6 linked regions of the Homo sapiens genome follow. The protein of the gene in region 4 interacts with the protein of the main gene of each other region in a biochemical or structural test. Each region holds a gene or a part of one and is shown on either strand. Other genes may lie near its edges. The genes, in order: POLI, CGAS, SMAD4, JOSD2, YAP1 and TLK1.

Region 1 (2,609 bases), on a different chromosome or scaffold from region 4:
TGCCTGTAATCCCAGCTACTCGAGGCTGAGGCAGGAGAATCACTTGAACCCAGGAGATGGAGGTTGCAGTGAGTCAAGATCACACCTTTGCACTCCAACCTGGGCGACAGAGCGAGACCCCATCTCAAAAAAAAAAAAAAAAAAAAGATTCTGTAGTATAATTGGTCTGGTCTTCGTTCAGGGTTCCTGGACACCAAGCTCCTAAAACCCATGGAATTTCCTAAACAACAGAAGTGCCTTCATTATTCATGGTAAGCCCTGACACTGTATGCTAATGATGTGACCCACAGTGGGCCCTAGACAGCTAATGCTAAAAAGATGATTTAGGATGGAGGTAGCTCACTTCAAAAAAACAACCATGATTAGGGTGTTGAGACTTTGAGCCAGCCTGATGTCCAGACAGAGGAGGGAAACTGGAGATTAAGTTCAAGCACACAGTAAAGGTTTTAATAAATCATGCCTACGTAATGAAACCCCAAAGAAAACTCTGGACTTCTTGATTACTTGATATGTTTTATTTCTTGACTTGGACAGTTACATAGTTGTTACAATTACTCATTAACATGTTCATTTATGTTTATGTACCTTTCTATATACAGATTTTAAAATAGAAGTTTTTTTAATATTGAAAACAATCCAGATTTGATGGAAGACACAAATCTGCAGATTCATAATGAACCTAAATCCATGATAAATCTATAGCTAGACATATAATAAAAACTGCGTATCTCCAAAGTAAAAGATATTATCTTAGAACAGCTCAAGAGATGTCAGTTCTAAATCTACAGCTCTAAGGACATAATTTCAGAAGGTATAAAGAATTCTACCTAGAAGGAACATCTGACACACAAGAAAAAAGGTAAGCCCCCACCATGTCCCATCAAAAAAATAAACATTGACTATATAAAATACTAATAATATCCAATTTGGAGATTTAATAAAGAACTTGTGGAATTTAATTAGAATTAATGTTATTTCAATACCTTTGTGTTGTTTGGAAAGAGGGTAGCATTTTTAGATGTTTAAGGATAATCAAAAGGACTTGTAACATTCACATTCCAAATCAGTAAAGGGAAAATATATGATTAAATAGAAAACCCAACTGATCCCAAAAGATAGGAGGAGAGATAAAGGTGGGAAAGAAGCACAACATAGAAAAAGAAATATATTAAAAAATAAGATGGCAAAAAATAAATCCAAATAAATTTGTACTTTGGCACTACAGTGGAATAGATACTTTTTAGAGTTCTCCTAGTACAAAACACTAGATCTTGGAGAAAAGAGACCTCTTAATTCATTGCTGGTTTGTACCATATAAGGGAAATCTCCAGGCCTACACTCAAGACAGAAACCCCCTCTACACTATACACTCAAGAGAGAAACAGAAAAAATAAAAATAAAAATACCCTCTACATTCAAGACAGAAACAGGAAAAAAAAAAAACAACAACAAACTCGAGCTGAAACAAAAGCAAGAAAGCAGCAGAAAGCATCAAGCAAGAAGCAAGCTTGAAAGATGGGGTTTATCCCTGGAGGCAGATAGCTAACAGCATCTGCCTGTTAGTTTGGAATTGACCTGCAGAGACAAAACCTTCGGCTAGTAGTAAGGGTCAGGGAGCTTACACTTAAGACAAGGCATTCAATCAGGATCCACAAAGGTGAATAGAGTATGCCAAGGAGTTTGTACCACCTCACCCAGAGAAGCAACGAACTCAAATCATACTGAAGGAAAACATACACAATTTAGGCCCTCTGTCTTCTCGCAGATTAACACATACTCAAGGAAATAAGTCACAATGATATGCAATAATAACCTTAAATGTAGACTTATAAAGACTTAAAATATTGAAATTATCAAAAATATCATATATTTGACTTTTAAAAATTAGAAACAGACTTACAAGGGACTGTAATGAGTAAACGGGAAGTTAAAAAGAATCAAATGAAAAATATATTTATTGAAATTAAAACCATCATTGTTTTAAATAGCAGGTGAGATGCTACTGAAAAATGAACTAGTAAACAGAAAGATAGAGCTGATGAAATTACCCAAAATGCAGTAAAGAGAAACAAGAGGATGAAAAATATGAGAAATTAAGAGACATGAAGGATACAGTAAGAAAGTCTATCATTTGTATACAGTCCTAGAATAGAGAAGAAATATTTGAAGAGCTAGTGGTTGAGAATTTTACAGAACATGAATTAAAAGATACAGGAAGAAGCCAGTATATACTAAGAATAAAAATAAATTCGCACTTCCAAATAATACAGTAAACCTGCAAAGCACCAAAGAAAAAAGAGATAATCTTAAAAACAGAGAAAAAAGATCCCATAAAAAAGTTGATTCTGAGGCCCAAAGATGTTGAGACTAACTTAAAACCACAAAATAAGTAGCGTAACTGTGACATAGCCCGTACATTCTCAATCTATGAAATGTATTTTTAACTATTTTGCTTTCTCTTTTTAAGCTGGCCAAAACCATTTACTTTGTTTTCTTAGCCATTTTTTCTTAAGCCCCTTCTAGCTGTCCAAGGTCCTGAAATCATTACAAGGACTATAAAATGTTTTAATGATTTACAAAAAGTTATATACCCTTTTCATAAGTTTAAT
Region 2 (3,500 bases), on a different chromosome or scaffold from region 4:
TCTTACTTTTTGAGATATCATTTTCTCACTGGCAAGAATTTCAATTGGCAAAAAGTTTAACAAGTCAGTGAGGTTGAGAGTGAAACAGGTACTCTGATACATTGCTGTGGAAAAGCAAATTGGAATGATGCCTATGGAGATCTGGGAAATGCCTAGCAATATTACATAACGATTTACTCTTTGACCAGCTGTAAAAATAGACTTTAAAAAGGAATGGGTGTTTTCTCTATATAGAGGTATGGAGTGAGATCGAAAATATCTTGTTAAATTAAAAGAAAAAAAGTGTTATATCTGAGAGCAGGGCGTCTATAAAATTAAAAAATAAACCAAATTAATAAAATTAAAAAGAAAAACATATGTCCTGGCCATGATGGCTCATGCCTATAATCCCAGCACTTTAGGAGGCCAAAGTGGGAGGACTGCTTTAGGCCAGGAGTTTGAGACCAGCCTGGGCAACATAGCAAGACCCTGTGTCTACTTTAAAAAAAAAAAAAAAAAAAGTGTACCTTTTATTTAAAAAGGGGGTAGCATACAAATATATTTTGTATGTATATAAATTACTATATTATCTAATATTTATGTTCAATCTACCTTTTTCAAAGTAATACCAGTATTATTACCAATAATACACTTATAAAAAACAGCTTATAATTTTTTTGCAGTTTTTTGTCCTTAAGATAAAAGGACAGTCAAAATACCAAGTTTTAAACCCACTTGAAAACATGTCCACTGATTACAGTGTCGTGCACCTGTAATCTCAGCTACTTGGGAGGTGGGAGACTGAGACGGGAGGATCACTTGAACCCAGGAGTTCAGCTCCAAGAAGAACAACCCTAACTCCTGGGCTCAATGATCCTCCTGCCTCAGCCTCCCGAAGGCTGAGGAAACTAGGACTATAAGCACATGCCACTGCACCCCCATTTCCCTATTATTAACATCCCATATTCATAAAATACATTGGTACAATAAACCAATATTGATACATTATTGTTAACTAAAGTCTATACTTTATCCAGATTTCCTTAGTTTTTACCTGACTTCTTTATCTTAAAAATATATATTAAATATAAGTATTTATATGAATATATTTACATAAGTATTTACATGTAATATATTATGTATAATTTATATGTAATATGTCATATAATATAAAACATTGTATATAATTTATATTATATACTATATACACATTTATATGCCATCCCCTTTTTAAAATAAAAGGGACACCTTTTTCTTTGTTTTTGAGACAGGGTCTCACTCTGTTACCCAGGCTAGAGTGCAGTGGCACCATCTTGGCTCACTGCAGCCTCAACCTCCAGGGCTCAAGTGATCCCCTGACATCAGCCTCTTGAATAGTTGGGACTACAGGCTTGCACCACCACACCTGGCTAATTTTTGTATTTTTAGTAGAGACAGGCTTTCACCATGTTGCCCACGCTGGTCTCGAACTCCTGAGCTCAAATGATCCACCCACTTCAGCCTCCCAAAGTACTGGATTATAGGTTTGAGCCATTACATGAATGAGAGAGAGAGAGAGAGAATATATTTACTTACACTTTTAAAACACGGAAGGCCAGGCACGGTGGCTCACGCCTGTAATCCCAGTACTTTGGGAGGCCAAGGTGGGTGGACCACCTGAGGTTGGGAGTTCAAGAGCAGCCTGGCCAGCGTGGTGAAACCTCATCTCTACTAAAAACACAAAAATTAGCCAGGCGTGGTGGCACACACCTGTAATCCCATCTACTCCTGGAGGCTGAGGCAGGAGAATCACTTGAACCTGGGAGGCGAAGGCTGCAGTGAGCCAAGATTGCCCCACTGCGCTCCAGCCTGGGCAACAGAGCGAGACTCTGTCTCAAAAATAAATAAATAAATAAAATAAAAAATAAAACATGGAAGGGTAAACTAAAAACAATTAAAAAGGTTTCTAATCAGGGAAGGAGAGAAGAGTGTGGAGAGGACATGAACAGAAGATGTTTCTCTAACTGTACCTTTTTCCATAGCTTTGACTTTGGAACCACGTATATGCTTTATAAATTTATGAAACGAATTAAATCAAAATTTAAAAACCAGTATCTAAAAACAGATAACATAATGAAACAAGTTAATTTACCTATGTTGAGTTAAACTGTCCAGAGACTTTTTTTTTGGCAGGCGGGGTATAGAGGACTTCTTGCTATGTTACCCAGGATGGAGTGCAGTGGCATGATCATAGCTCACTACAGCCCTGAACCCCTGGGCTCAAGCAATCCTCCCGCCTCAACTTCCTGAGTAGCTGAGACTATAGGCATGGGCCACTGCGCCTGGCTGAACATTTTTTTGAGTGGGTTAAAAACCTCATATTTTGACTGTCCTTTTATCTTAAGAACAAAAAAACTGCAAGTAAATCATAAACTGTTCTTTAAATAAATTATATCCTTGGTAATAAAACTAGTATTATTTTGCAACAGGTAAATTTTTAAAATTTAAAATTTTTAATCAAAAATCAATAAAAACAAGGCCAGGCACAGTGGCTCATGCCTGTAATCTTTGGGAGATGGAGATGGGTGGATCACCTGAAGTTGGGAGTTCGAGATCAGCCTGGCCAATATGGTGAAACCCAGTCTCTACTAAAAATACAAAAAATTAGCTGGGCATGGTGGCACGCACCTGTAGTCCCAGCTACTCGAGATGCTGAAGTGGGAGAATCTTTTGAACCCAGGAGGTGGAGGTTGCAGTGAGCCAAGATTGCACCACTGCACTCCAGCCTGGGCGACACAGCGAGACTCTGTCTCAAAAAATAAACAAATAAAAATAAATAAAAACAAAAACATAATATTTTTAAAAATATAGCTTGTGAGACCAGGGAATTTCTAGTAGAATGTTTAGAGAAAGAAAAGATATAGCAGGTGTTATAAGTGTCTCCAATCTAGTACAAGTATTTTCACTGTTAAGTCCCTCTGTTCACATACACTCACACACATACACAGAAGCAGAGTTTTGTCTAATTATACATAATCTGGAATGATGGCAGATGCAGAACAGCCAAGGGTAACAGAAAGCAGAGGTGAAGCTAAGCATCCAGCACCAGCCTTCACTTTCTTTCATTTTAATGGAAGAATGAAAAGAACTCCCTAACCATGGCTAGATGCAGTGGCTCACGCCTGTAATCCCAGCACTTTGGGAGGCTGAGGCGGGTGGATCACGAGGTCAAGAGATGGAGACCATCCTGGCCAACATAATGAAACCCTGTCTCTACTAAAAATACAAAAATTAGCCTCGCGTGGTGGCATGCGCCTGTAGTCCCAGCTACTCATGAGGCTGAGGCAGGAGAATCGCTTGAGCCAGGAGGCAGAGGTTGCAGTGAGCCAAGTTCACACCACTGCACTCCAGCCTGGGCAACAAAGCAAGAATCCGTCTCAAAAAAAAAAAAAAAAAAGAACTGCCTAACCACATAGGCCACAGGGCCACCAAAGGACTCTTCTTCATCTCTAAGGTGATTTACCTTCCAGTGTTCCTCAGGA
Region 3 (3,500 bases), on a different chromosome or scaffold from region 4:
AACACAAAAGATAAATGCTTGAAGGGATGTATACCCCATCTTCCATGATGTGATTATCATGCATTATATGCCTGTATCAAAACATCTCATGTGCCCCATAAATATATACATCTCCTATGTACCCACAAAGATCAAAAATAAAATCATTTAAAAATATATTTTTTTAATTTTTCAAGCTTGGTGTGGTGGCTCACGTCTATAATCCCAGCACTTTGGGAGGCTAAGACAGGAGGATCACTTGAGGCTAGGAGTTCGAAACCAGCCTGGACAACATAGCGAGATCCCATCTCGGAAAAAAATAAATAAATAAATAAATAAATAAAATTATTAGCAGGAGGACTGCTTTAGCCCAGGAGTTCGAGACCAGCCTGGGCAACATGGTGAGACCCTGTTATCTACTAAAATACAAACATTAGCCAGGCATGGTGGCCCTTGCCTATAGTCCCAGCTACTCTAGAAGCTGAGGTGAGAGGATCGCTTGAGACTAGGAGGTCAAGGCTGTAGTAATCTGAGATCATGCCACTGCACTCCAGTTTGGGCAACAGAGCCAGGCCCTCTCTCAAAAATAAACAAGTAAAAATAAAAATATAATTCTTCATAATTTTCTTTTAATTAGGAGGAAAATTGAGTTTATAGTTTCCAAAAAATTAAGGTGATTAGCTGAAGTAATATATTTGCATCTTTTTATGCTAAGAAAAACAGATACGAAAGGATGAGAAAAAAATTCAAAATCTATGTTTGTGTTACAAGGGACTTTCAGTATTTTATTTTCAAGTGTTTTCTGTTTTATTACCTCTACAGTTTCAAAAATTATACACAAACTTTGAACTGAAGAAAGCTACTTAGCGATTTACTCTTTTGCATACAATTTAATCAAATAGTTTCTAAATTCCAGTTAACCAGAGATCCTGAATAGAGTGAATTATTTTTCTTTTCGGCATGTACTTAAGATTCTTTCCTGGCTTTTTAAGCTATAGTTTTACAGCTGTTCTATTTTGAAACCTAGTTTTATTCTGCTGCATATTTATGTATTCAATGCTGAAGTCAGCATTTCTGTAATTCTCATTTTAGCTGAAAAGATAGTTCTTTTCTTTTGGGGACAGTTAAACTGAATAAAATATAGACAGTCTATGTGTGACTATATTGACTACTCAAACTGTTGATTAACTCATGTCATGATGAGTATTGTACTCATCTGAGAAGTGACCCCATAATTCCATTAAAGCCTGTGTTTGTGCGTTTCAATCACCACTAAATCAATCTAAATACAGGAAATCAATTTTGAAATACACTTACCAGGATGATTGGAAATGGGAGGCTGGAATGCAAGCTCATTGTGAACAGGCCCTAAAGAAAAGACAACAAAAATTCCATTTTTATTTACTAAAAGTTGTCTAATGCTAAAACTTTCAGTAAATCTTACTTAAATATAACTATTATAGGTTAGGAATTGTTTAAAACAAGCTTATGCAATGTCTAAGAACTTAAAAGTTTACAATAAGCAAATAGTCTTAAACTATTAATACTTTTGTGGATATTTAATAACTAACATTTCAGTGCTATCTGCCAAGTGCTATTATTACACAATTTACACATAATTTTATATCCAACATTTAATACAGATCATAAATGAATTATTCATGTAACGTCCAATACAGTACAATTTATAATGCAATGTATAATAATAAACTGTTAGGTCTATTCTAAAAACAAGTGCTTATGTTAATTAAGGATGTTTATTTAATGGAATCATAGCTAACATAATTGAAAACTGGTAATGTGTTAAAACACTGTGCTAAACACCTCACATAAATTATTACGTTTACTTCTTACGAACACCCCTTGAGGTAGATACTACTATTATTACTCTTGAGGCTTAATGAGGTGAAATAACTTGTCAATGGTCACACAGCCTGTTAAAGGTCCAAACCCAGCACCCTTCAACACTATGACGGCCTAGGCAGCCATTAAAAATTACATTCTCTTAAGAAATGGAAAAAATAGTAACATAACTGAAAAGAAGCAAGATATATACAATACACATAGAGTAGGAGCCCCTGTCAATTTACATATACCTGTTTATATGACTGGAAGGAAAATAACAAAATATTAGAAGTGGCTGTTTTTGAGTAGCAGGATTCAGGGTAATTTTGCTTTTCTTATTTATACTTTTCTATATTTTCTAAGTTTTCTTTGGTACTATTAATATTATAATGAGAAGAAAGGGATTTAATGTATATAAGAGTTATACTCTCGATTTTACTAAGCCATATGAACAATGCTCCTATTCTACCTGAAACTACATGTTATCTGTAGGGTATTCCTCCCAATCATGCCAGCACAGAGTTATCTATAGATTCAACATTATCCAAAGTACACTGAATACTACGCTGAGGGAAACCTTGAGAACTTAGCACTCAAAGGGTTTCAATCCATTATGCGTGGATATACAAGACACAGATGAGATCTAAGAACATATACAAAGCAAACAAACAAATGAATGGAAATCAATGTGATGTTAATGAAACATTAGCAACAGAGAAATAAATGTATTTAGCAAACATCACTCCTCTAAAATAAAAAGGTAGGATAACTATGAAAAATAATACTGTTTACAAAAAATACTGAAAAGCACTATTTAATGAAACAAAATCACAGGATGAATAAAAGATGTAAAAACATTTTTAAAAAACAGAAAACAAAGCCCTACCAAAAAAAAAAAAAAAATAGCCCTTACAACAAAAACAAGAGCTTACAGTAATGTCCGGGATGGGGCGGCATAGGCGGGTGGTGCTGAAGATGGCCGTTTTGGTGGTGAGGCAAATTAGGTGTGTATGGTGCAGTCCTACTTCCAGTCCAGGTGGTAGTGCTGTCTAAAAATTAAGGCCCACATGGGTTAATTTGCTTTTATAAAGGCTGCCTACTTTTTTCTCAACTATTTAAAAGATTTTTTAAAGTATGTACATACTATGATGGTAAGTAGCTGGCTGACCAGTAAATCCATTCTGCTGCTGTCCTGGCTGAGGCCCTGATGCTATCTGCAACAGTCCTTCACTATGGCTGCCCCCCAGTATACTGGCAGGCTGACCTAGAGGAACAAGAAGACATTAACATGGTACATTCATAGATGTCATCTTATGATTTCATATACTAAATGAAGGACCAATTTTATCTGATAATGCACAACTATAAAGATGGGCAAAAAGTGTAACTCACCCATGGCCTATCAGGTAAAAAACCTACAGTCATCTATAAAGGCAAACTTTAACTTGAGGAAGCTCAAAATTATTCCATTTTAGGTAATGTCTAACTAATTGTAGTGGCTTATTTCTTCACAAACATATTTCAAATGCCAGCAAAACACCACTGTACGTCTGGCCTATCATATTAACTTCTTCAGAGGTATGTCAGTTCATCCTGGCCACTCCATCCACCTCTCTCTCTGGACCTTTCTGATTAGGACCCCAAAAATCCAGGCTCAAGAAAATGTTGAAAACTGA
Region 4 (2,694 bases):
GACAGGGACTTTGTCCAAGGCATTGGGGAGCCATGGGAGAGCTGAGAGCAGGAGAGGGCCAGGGCCGTGTGGGAATGGACTGGAGGGAGGCTGGAGGCTGCGGGAGAAGACAGAGCCCATCTGGGGCCTTGGGGACAGGGCAGAGTCAGGGCAGGAGAGACAGGACTTGGGGACAGGGCAGAGTCAGGGCAGGAGAGACAGGACTTGGGGACAGGGCAGAGTTGGGGCAGGAGAGGCAGGACTTGGGGACAGGGCAGAGTCGGGGCAGGAGAGGCAGGACTTGGGGACAGGGCAGAGTCAGGGCAGGAGAGACAGGACTTGGGGACAGGGCAGAATTGGGGCAGGAGAGGCAGGACTTGGGGGTGGATGAGTTGTGGGGTCTGAAGCGGGGAGAGTCAAAGGCTGAGGCAACTTGTGGCCCCTGGGACCCCCATTTTGTGGGGAGGCCTTTCCAGGGGTCCCCACCTCAGCTCTGGCCACCCCCACTACCAGGTTGGCCCCAGACTCCCGGCTGAACCCTCATCGCAGCCTCCTGGGCACCGGCAACTATGATGTCAATGTGATCATGGCCGCTCTGCAGGGGCTGGGCCTGGCCGCCGTGTGGTGGGACAGGAGGAGGTAGGCCCCAGAGCAGCACAGCATGTGCTGGGCCGGGCACAGAGGGCACCCTATAGTGTGAGCCTGTTGGGGGGCAGGGAGGGGAATGTGGCTGGGGGAGGTTGGCATGAATGTGGGAAGCCTGGCACTGATGGGTTGAAAGGGGGAGATCAGGTGGTCGATGGGCTGAGATGCTGGGTGGATGATGGTTACTGGGTGAATGCTGAGTAGGCCGTTGGATGTGTTGGGTCAGGGGGAGTGAAGTGATGGGTGTTCCTGGGCAATGGGCAGCAGACAGGAGGCTGGGGAGTTGGGTGGATGAATGGGAAGTTTTGATGGCCGGCTGGCCAGTGGCTGGGCATGTGGCTGGTGGATGAGGGGTAGACCAATGGCAGGGGGGTCAAGAGTGAGTGAGGATTGGGGGCATGGCGAGTCCACTGTTGGGTGAATGGCTGGCTGGGTGGTGGCCGGCTGTGTGGGTGGGTGGGTGGGTGGTGGGTGGTGAACAGTAGATGGCTAGTTGGATGGTGATGGTGGTTGGGTGGTTGACGGGGAGGTGGGGCGGGTGTATATGAGGGATGGAAGTGAATGCATAGATGGGAGGTGAGTGTGTGAATCGTCATTGGGAAGTTGGCTGGTGGCTGGGAGGCTCAGTGGGGTGGGCGGATCATGCATGGATCCTGGGTGGCTGTGTGAGGAGTTGGTAAGTTGGTGGGTGGGTGGCTGGACAGACAGGGTGATGGTGGTTGGTGAAGGGCCGATGTGAGTTGGGTGGACGGTGGGTGGGTGGGTGGACGGTGGGTGGGTGGGTGGGAGGTCTGGTTGGGTGGCCGCATGGGTGGGAGGTTTGAGTGGGCAGGTGAACGGATGAGTGTCGGGAACCAGGGTGGCTGATTAAGGAACACCTCTGGGTGGGCTCAGGAGGCCCTCACCACCACCAGCCTGGGCCCCACATGTTCAGCAACATTTCACCGGCGGGCGGAGCAGGCCCTGATGGCAGTGTCCCCTCCCTGCCCACACAGGCCCCTGTCCCAGCTGGCCCTGCCCCAGGTACTGGGGCTGATCCTGAACCTGCCCTCGCCCGTGTCGCTGGGGCTGCTGTCACTGCCGCTGCGCCGGCGGCACTGGGTGGCCCTGCGCCAGGTGGACGGTGTCTACTACAACCTGGACTCCAAGCTGCGGGCGCCCGAGGCCCTGGGGGATGAGGACGGAGTCAGGTGAGCCCCACAGAGGCGATTCCAAGACCAGGGGCCTGAAACCCCACTCCCCAGACGGAATGCCCAGGCTGGCCGAGCCTCAGTCTCCCCATTTCTCCCACCCAGGGCCTTCCTGGCGGCTGCGCTGGCCCAGGGCCTGTGCGAGGTGCTGCTGGTAGTGACCAAGGAGGTGGAGGAGAAGGGCAGCTGGCTGCGGACAGACTGACCATGGCTGACCATCGGCGCCCACAGCGCAGTCCCTGCGCATCCCCCTCCGGCTGCGCACACTGCATGCCTGGGAAAGGCCAGCACTTCATGGACCCTGGGGAGGCCCCGCCCCCTCCCCACACCCCTGCTCCCCACTGCCGCTGCTGCCTCAATAAATCTGCTGATTTGCTGCCTGCCTGGCCTGTGTCTGACGGCCCCACCCTTCTGGGGCCCCTTCCACTCAGTGACTCCCACTTACCTTACAGGCCAGACACCCTGGTGTGTGGGGCCGAGAGCCCAGGAGGCCTCCTGGTTCTCTGCCACCTCATGCCAGTTTCTCACTGCTGGGCCTCAGTTTCCTCATCAGTGACACAGCAGAAAAAAACACAAGTCCGTGCCCCCTGGGGCTCACGCTCCTCCGGTGCTGGAGAGAGACCAGTGGCAAACAAATGAGTTTGATCTCCTGGGTTCCACGGGGGTCATTGCTAAGGAGAAAGCAGGTGTTTACTTCTTTATTTGATTGATTGATTGAGACAGGGGTCTCACTCTGTCACCCAGGCTGGAGTGCAGTGGGTCAATCACAGCTCACTGTAGCCTTGAACTCCTGGGCTCAAGCGACCCTCCCACCTCAGCCTCCCAAGTAGCTGGGACCACGGGTGCATGCCACCATACCTGACTACTTTCTTTAAATTTT
Region 5 (3,500 bases), on a different chromosome or scaffold from region 4:
CTTGTATAGAGTTGTGGATGTGTGTGAGTTCTTAAGTTAAAATTGGACTGATAACATCTTTATCTTCTACATACAAAGATATAGTTGGGTTTTTTTCATCCTGTTCATTGTAGATGGCTTTTAAGAACATTTGGGCAGTTCAAATTTGTTGCTCTCATTAAAATTTGTGTAATTTGTTATGATTTCTTTATTGATGGCATTTTATCATGGTTGGAATAAATGACGAGGGCTTGATTTTTCTTGAGTTTGACCTAGAAAAAAAATTAATTACTTAAAACCTAGTAAAAAATACATATTCTTTGTGTTGTGTTTATACTTAGAACATTTTAGAACTTGGAAAAGCACCCATAACTGCACTGACCTCTTAAAAATTAGGTTTTAAAATTCACTATTATTTTTGGAATGTTTTATTCATTCAGTACTAGTTGCCCTTACATGTCTAGTGTGGACCAGGGGAAATTCATTAGATGGACTGCTCATCAATACAATTACAAACATTTATAAAATTTATATTAAAATTATATAATATTAAAAGTATCCATTTGAAAACCTGTGTTCTCCAGTGTCGAATATTAAATGTTGAAATTTTCCTTTGGTACTTAGATATTCGGCTGCAATTAAGCGCTGACTGGGAAATTTAAAGGGACTCAGTTGTGTTTTTTCTTTTTTAATTTTTCATCTTAATATTCCCTAATAGGCCAGTACTGATGCAGGCACTGCAGGAGCCCTGACTCCACAGCATGTTCGAGCTCATTCCTCTCCAGCTTCTCTGCAGTTGGGAGCTGTTTCTCCTGGGACACTGACCCCCACTGGAGTAGTCTCTGGCCCAGCAGCTACACCCACAGCTCAGCATCTTCGACAGTCTTCTTTTGAGATACCTGATGATGTACCTCTGCCAGCAGGTTGGGAGATGGCAAAGACATCTTCTGGTCAGAGATACTTCTTAAAGTAAGTGAAAATAATGGTGGGAGACAGTTATCTAAGACAAATATGTATTGGAAAACACAGTAAAGTGGTGTCAAGATACAGAATATCATTTATTTTTATGTTTTATTTAATATTTATGTTAAGCTCTGTAGCTCTATCTTCCATATATATGTTTCAGTTTGGTATGACCTAAATACCTTTGTTAGTATGGGTAATATTTTGAAAGCTTTACTGAGTCTTGGTTCTGAGCCTCTTTATAATCTTTTCTTTTGTGGAAGTTTGGTTATTCTCATTTTGAGCTTGTGCCAAACCTTTTAATTAGCCTAGCACAAAACAGAAAGAATACCATGAAAATTTTCAAATTCTGGGAATTACAGGGCTAGCAGCGTCTTACAAAATACGTATGGTGCTACTTGTATCTTTTTAAATAAATATTTTATTGGTAGAGAACTACAAAATAAGTAGGGCTTTTGGGGGAGTCTAATTTTACAGTATTTTAAATTGTGAAATGACAAGCACTACAACTGAAGCTTGATGTGACTTACCAATATTTCCCCCCAAAAATGTAAAGGGAAATAAAAATTTTTAGGTTTCATATGCAGTCGCTCAGTGGCAAACTTCTTTCAAGCTAGTAGGTCTTCACAACAGAAACCCTCCTCTCTGGGAAAACAAAAACATGACCGTTGGGTTGTTTATTTATTTTTATTTTTTCAGTCCTTTTGTGTTTAATAAAATGGCAGAATTACACTAGGCTGAAAAGACATAAATAGAATTTTCTCTCCTCTGATTTTGAAATTACAGATAAGACCTCAATTTTTTTCTGGCTTGTTTGGATCAAGTATATATTGAAATGTTGACTAAAACTAATTATGATAGACTGAAATTGATGTCTTTAAAAAAGCTCACTTAATAGTGTTTAATCAGGTTGAGATAATAAAGTGAAAAACAGTGTAAGTTTTGATTCGGATAGGTCTTGACAGTCTACTCCTAAGGCAAATGTAACATTTATTTATCATACCAGATAACACCATTAAGGATGTTTTGTTGTGTGAATCCTAGTATGTGTTTTATATTGATTGTCTTCCAGGGTGGGTTGCTACTTTGTAATGTAAGATAGAAAGTTTTGTGACAGACTTACAGAAGAGCAAAGGAAAAGGTTTGATCATGAAAAGTTCGTACAGTTTTTTTTTGCCCCCTTTCCTGCAACTTTTTCTTTTCTTTTCTTCTTTTTTTTTAAAAAAATTCATTTTCTGGTGTCCTGGTATCCATTTCAAAGGATCAGGTTTCAACCAGAACAGTAAAGGGCCTGAGACTGGAAAGTACACACAAGTCTGGCAAACTCATCTGCATGAGCAAGATCATTTGTTCTCAAGCAGACATCCAAAGTAAATGATTGAAAGAGCTGCTAGCTGTGAAGGATGTGTCTTGAAGGGGAAGGGAGTGGAAACAAACCAGGTTGTTAGGAAGAAAAAGAAAGGCTGCACTTTTTTGAACCTCTCCCTGCTGGGTCACATGCTGACCTGGGGAGATTGTTAAACAGCTTAATAGCCTGCTTTCCTTCTTTCTTTGGTTGATGCTGTGGCTAAAAGTATAAGGTTAAAGAGCAACATTTATGCTCTTCTTCTTAGTTCTTTGTATCTTGTAATAATTGCTTGTAGGTGATACCTGCCTACGATTTCATTATTTTGAATGAATGATCTTTTTTTGAGCTGAAATCAGTATTCTAGATACAGTTGGCCTTCCGTATCTGTGGGTTCAGCATTCATGGATTCAACCAACCTCTGATTGAAAATATTTGGAAACAAATTACATCTGTATTGACTAATGTACAAACTTTTTTCCTTGTCATTATTTCCTAAATAATGTAACAACTATTTAGCCTTTACGTTGTATTAAGTATTATAAGTAATCTAGAGGTGATATAAAGTATATGGGAGAATATGTATAGGTTATATGCAAATATTATGCCACCTTATATGAAAGACCAGAGCCTCTGTGGATTTTAGTACATGTAGGAGGTCCTGGAACCAATCCTTGACCACAGATGCTAAGGAATGACTATTCATTTTTCAAAGTTTCCAGTGATTCTTCCTTTGTGAAGAAATGTTTCTCTTAAAGGTATTGATATATGTAGATGGATTAATGAAGGGTATATACCTTCCAACCCCAGTCACCTCAATTCACCCCTGTCAACTATGGGCCTGTAAGGAAGATAAACCAGGCTAAAATAAATAAATCTCAAATTATGTCATAGGAGAAAAGGTTGCAAGGGTAGAGAGATATTTACCCGGAAAAGAAAAAACTGGGAGGAGGAGAGATAAGACATGATTGTTGTTTCAGTGTTTCTGGGGAACTTTTATGTGGGAGTAGGATTAGTCTTACTATATAAGAAATGTGAGGAATTTTGATTCCATGGAAGAATTTTCTTATATAAAACTTTTAAGAACTAGAAGAGTTTTCCTGGACAGGTAAATCTTGCTCAATAAATGTAGGTAAAATCATGGTTACTTGGTATCTGTCAGGGATTCTATGGAGGCCCCTAAACATTGGATGTGGGAGAAGAATGCTGTGGG
Region 6 (3,500 bases), on a different chromosome or scaffold from region 4:
TTTAATTTAAGACAGCATTGAGAACTACTGGTGTAGAAACTCGATAAAACCAACACCTGTGATCCTACTGTATTTGACAGTGTCTTTAAAACATCCAGTGTGTCTTTTTCCTGATCCTGTCATATTTACTTTCTCACACCCATTTACCATTTAACCACTATTTTAAATTTTGTATTTGTGATGCCTTGGTGTTTCTTTATGGTTGTATTAAATATGTGCTTACATTCTTCACAACATATTATTTCAGTTGGTTTTTGAACGTTAAGTGAAATTTTCCAGTATGGACCCTTTTGCCCAGCTTGTTTTCAATGAAATATATCAGAGAGTCATCCACTTTGATGAGTATAACTGTAGTTTGTTCATTTCATTGCAATATTGTAAGGTGTTACAAGTATACCATAATTTCTGTATCTTTTCTGCTTTTAGTTGACATTTTATTTCTACTTTTTCTAGTATAAACAGTTCTAAGAACATTCTTTGTACATGTCTTCAGGGCACATATGAAAGAATTTTTCTGTGGTATATGTTTAGGAAAGACATAGCCAGAGTACAGGGCATACGCATTTTCCATTTTACTGTATAATACCAGTTATTTCTCAAGGTTTTTTGGTCTGGTCTTTTTTTTCCCCCGCTAAGTGACAGGGTCTCACTGTGTCGCCCAGGCTAGAGCACAGTGGGGGATCATAGCTCACTGTAGCCTCAAACTCCCGGGTTTAAGCAATATTTCTACCTCAGGCTCCCAAGTAGCTAGGACTACAGGCTCATGCCATCACTCCGGGCTGATTTTTTTTTATTTTGTAGAGCTGGGAGTCTACAGGCTGGTATTGAACTCCTGGCCTCAAGTGATCCTCCCACCTTGGTCTCCCAAAGTGCTGGGGCTATAGGCATGAGCCACCATGCCCAGCTGATCTTTCAATATAAATTATTAGTCTTACTGAAATTGGTTTTGGGTATGGCATGATGTAGGGTTTCATTTCAATTTCTTTCTATATGGATAACCAGTTGTTCATCCCCATTTAATTAAAAGCTCATTCTTATACTGCCAGCTCTATCATCATAAAATCTTGTTTCCAGTATACAGGTGGATCTGTTTCTGTGTTCTGTATCATGTTTCCTTGTTCTGTTTGTGTCTCTACACAAGTACTGCAGCATCTTTTTATCATTGTTGATAAAACAATTTTTATCAGTTGTTTTTGGCTGTTAGTAACAGTGAACATAAATAACAGTACTTCAGATGAGATAGAAGCTTATTTTTCAAGAGAAGAACAGAAGTGGGCAGCTCAGATATTATTACTCCTCAGTATCATAAGGGACCTTGTCATTGTTAGTTCATGGCTTATATCTCAAAGGTCACATCAAGGTTCAATATATCTATTAGGGTCACAATTATATCTGTGTTCTAAGCAGATAACAGGAGGGAGGATGGGAGCAGAGAACACAAAGCACAATTCTGTGTGCAGCCTTCTTGGATATCTCATTGAACAACTTCTGCTTGCATCTCATTAACCATCCTTCGCTCTAAGGGAAGCTGGGAACTGTAGTCATTTGGCTAGGCAGATAGCAATCCAGGATAAAACATTGAATTTCCATTATTAAGGAAGGAGGAGGCTTGGGTGATCATAGTTATGTAGCTTTATGTTAAGTCATGATACATGGTTAAACAGATATCCTCTTCTTCTTTTTGGCTATTTTTGGCCCTTCACAGTCTTAGAGAAATTTTAGAATCAGGTTTCAAGTTGCATATGCATCATACACACACAGTGTTGAGATTTTGTTTGAATTGCTGAGGGTCTATTGGTGCTAAATTCTGTTTCCTCTTCCTTGAAAAACAACTGTGTTGGGTATCTAATTTTAGGTTGGCAATTCTTTTCTCTCAGCACTTTTAAGATTTTGTGCCCTTGTCTTGTGGATTCCACCATGGTTGGCCTAGACTTTTGATTCTCAAAGTGTGATCTTCAGACCAGGAGCATCAGTATTACTGGAGAACTTATTAGAAACGGAAATTTTCAGGTCCTTCCTGAGACCTGATTCAGAAGCTCTGGGAATGGTTCCCAGTAATCTGTTGTAACAAGCCCTATAGGTTATTCTCTTGCCACTGTACTAATCAGACTCATCTTTTGATGTTAGAAGGAAGCCTCTTCTCTGAGCATATGGCCACCTACAAAGTGAACAGAATTAGTATCCTATTGCTAAGGAAGAATGGTGAGGACAGTTGTTGGGTAGGCAACTTGTGTATGTCATTTATAAGTTCAGTGGAGAAAATATTTTGTTAGTTATAAGAGATAGAGGAAAACCCACATTTAATTTGTTAATTATAAGAGATAGAGGAAAACTCACATTTATTTTTAAGTGATAGACACTTTATATACCATATTTTAGTTATTTTTAACAAAGTGAGGTAGATTGTGTTGCTTCTATTTAGAAATAAGAAAGCTGAACTAAAGTTCTTATAACTTAGCCAAAGTTAACCTTAGAGTATGGATTTGAATGTATGGATATGGATACAAATTTCCCTGTATGTACTTTCCACTACACACTTAAGTAACATTTAACAGTATTATCTCATGGTTAAGTAGGCTTTTTTTTTTTCTCGTATCATACTCAGATATTTAATATTATTAGTCCTATCTGTATATAATTTATTTAGAACATTAAAACTATTTCTAAGCTTTTCATATTCCCCAGTCTAGACCTCTTGCATTTTCTACTTATGTCATAGGCTAACTGTGATCTCAGACGGCAAATAGATGAACAACAAAAATTACTTGAAAAATACAAAGAACGATTAAATAAGTGCATATCAATGAGCAAGAAACTTCTTATTGAAAAGGTAGGCTAAAAGTTGAGTAAATTTTCGCTTTCCCTTCATTAGCCCCTTTTGCTTTGTATGCTTTTATAAATTAATGAATACAATTGAGTGATGATTTTTTTTCTCCTTTTCAGAGTACACAAGAAAAGCTGTCAAGCAGAGAGAAGAGTATGCAAGATCGATTACGCCTCGGGCACTTTACAACAGTTAGACATGGCGCTTCATTTACTGAACAATGGACAGATGGTTTTGCATTTCAGAATCTTGTGAAGTTAGTCATTCTTAACATTTAAAAGTTTTTAGTATTCGTTTGGGTTTTCATTACTTTAAAAGATTATAGATTTGTAATTATGCTCTCCAGTTCCTCGCTACTCTGAAATCATAGAATTTAGTACCTTTGAAAGGGATATGAAACCAAGAGTATTACAGTTTTAGCTTAGTAATTTCTTGATTAATTAGCAGTCATCTATAGAATGTAATATATTATTCTAATTCTGACTTTCCGAGATATTAATTGAACCTTTAGCTTTACAGATGATGTTTTGAGAGGGAAATTGTTGAAAATTTAATTTTCACTGGAAGATTTGTGTGTGTGTTTATTTCCTAGGATTTTCCTACTTAGTTTTTTCCCATTCCCCAATCCTTACATGTTAATGTTCAGCACTTGCCTGCTCTCTATTCCTAAGGGAAA

What was found.
Region 1: the proteins of JOSD2 (region 4) and POLI form a complex in vitro, tested with the Homo sapiens proteins (one large-scale study listed by BioGRID).
Region 2: the proteins of JOSD2 (region 4) and CGAS form a complex in vitro, tested with the Homo sapiens proteins (one study listed by BioGRID).
Region 3: of the proteins of JOSD2 (region 4) and SMAD4, one has a biochemical effect on the other in vitro, tested with the Homo sapiens proteins (one study listed by BioGRID).
Region 5: of the proteins of JOSD2 (region 4) and YAP1, one has a biochemical effect on the other in vitro, tested with the Homo sapiens proteins (2 studies listed by BioGRID).
Region 6: the proteins of JOSD2 (region 4) and TLK1 form a complex in vitro, tested with the Homo sapiens proteins (one large-scale study listed by BioGRID).

The regions. Positions count from the first base shown.
Region 1 is NC_000018.10:54,296,126-54,298,734, reverse strand, and holds the end of POLI (DNA polymerase iota isoform a (long)), read right to left. Parts: 3' UTR 501-2,609; downstream 1-500. UniProt on the Homo sapiens protein: Error-prone DNA polymerase specifically involved in DNA repair. Plays an important role in translesion synthesis, where the normal high-fidelity DNA polymerases cannot proceed and DNA synthesis stalls. Favors Hoogsteen base-pairing in the active site.
Region 2 is NC_000006.12:73,435,298-73,438,797, forward strand, and holds part of CGAS (cyclic GMP-AMP synthase), read right to left. Parts: intron 1-3,500. UniProt on the Homo sapiens protein: Nucleotidyltransferase that catalyzes the formation of cyclic GMP-AMP (2',3'-cGAMP) from ATP and GTP and plays a key role in innate immunity.
Region 3 is NC_000018.10:51,057,713-51,061,212, reverse strand, and holds part of SMAD4 (mothers against decapentaplegic homolog 4), read right to left. Parts: intron 3,089-3,500; coding exon 2,969-3,088; intron 2,874-2,968; coding exon 2,757-2,873; intron 1,348-2,756; coding exon 1,297-1,347; intron 1-1,296. UniProt on the Homo sapiens protein: In muscle physiology, plays a central role in the balance between atrophy and hypertrophy. When recruited by MSTN, promotes atrophy response via phosphorylated SMAD2/4.
Region 4 is NC_000019.10:50,505,498-50,508,191, reverse strand, and holds the end of JOSD2 (josephin-2), read left to right. Parts: intron 1-492; coding exon 493-618; intron 619-1,619; coding exon 1,620-1,814; intron 1,815-1,919; coding exon 1,920-2,019; 3' UTR 2,020-2,194; downstream 2,195-2,694. UniProt on the Homo sapiens protein: Cleaves 'Lys-63'-linked poly-ubiquitin chains, and with lesser efficiency 'Lys-48'-linked poly-ubiquitin chains (in vitro). May act as a deubiquitinating enzyme.
Region 5 is NC_000011.10:102,113,447-102,116,946, forward strand, and holds part of YAP1 (transcriptional coactivator YAP1), read left to right. Parts: intron 1-697; coding exon 698-948; intron 949-3,500. UniProt on the Homo sapiens protein: Transcriptional regulator with dual roles as a coactivator and corepressor. Critical downstream regulatory target in the Hippo signaling pathway, crucial for organ size control and tumor suppression by restricting proliferation and promoting apoptosis.
Region 6 is NC_000002.12:171,049,394-171,052,893, reverse strand, and holds part of TLK1 (serine/threonine-protein kinase tousled-like 1), read left to right. Parts: intron 1-2,719; coding exon 2,720-2,830; intron 2,831-2,943; coding exon 2,944-3,080; intron 3,081-3,500. UniProt on the Homo sapiens protein: Rapidly and transiently inhibited by phosphorylation following the generation of DNA double-stranded breaks during S-phase. This is cell cycle checkpoint and ATM-pathway dependent and appears to regulate processes involved in chromatin assembly.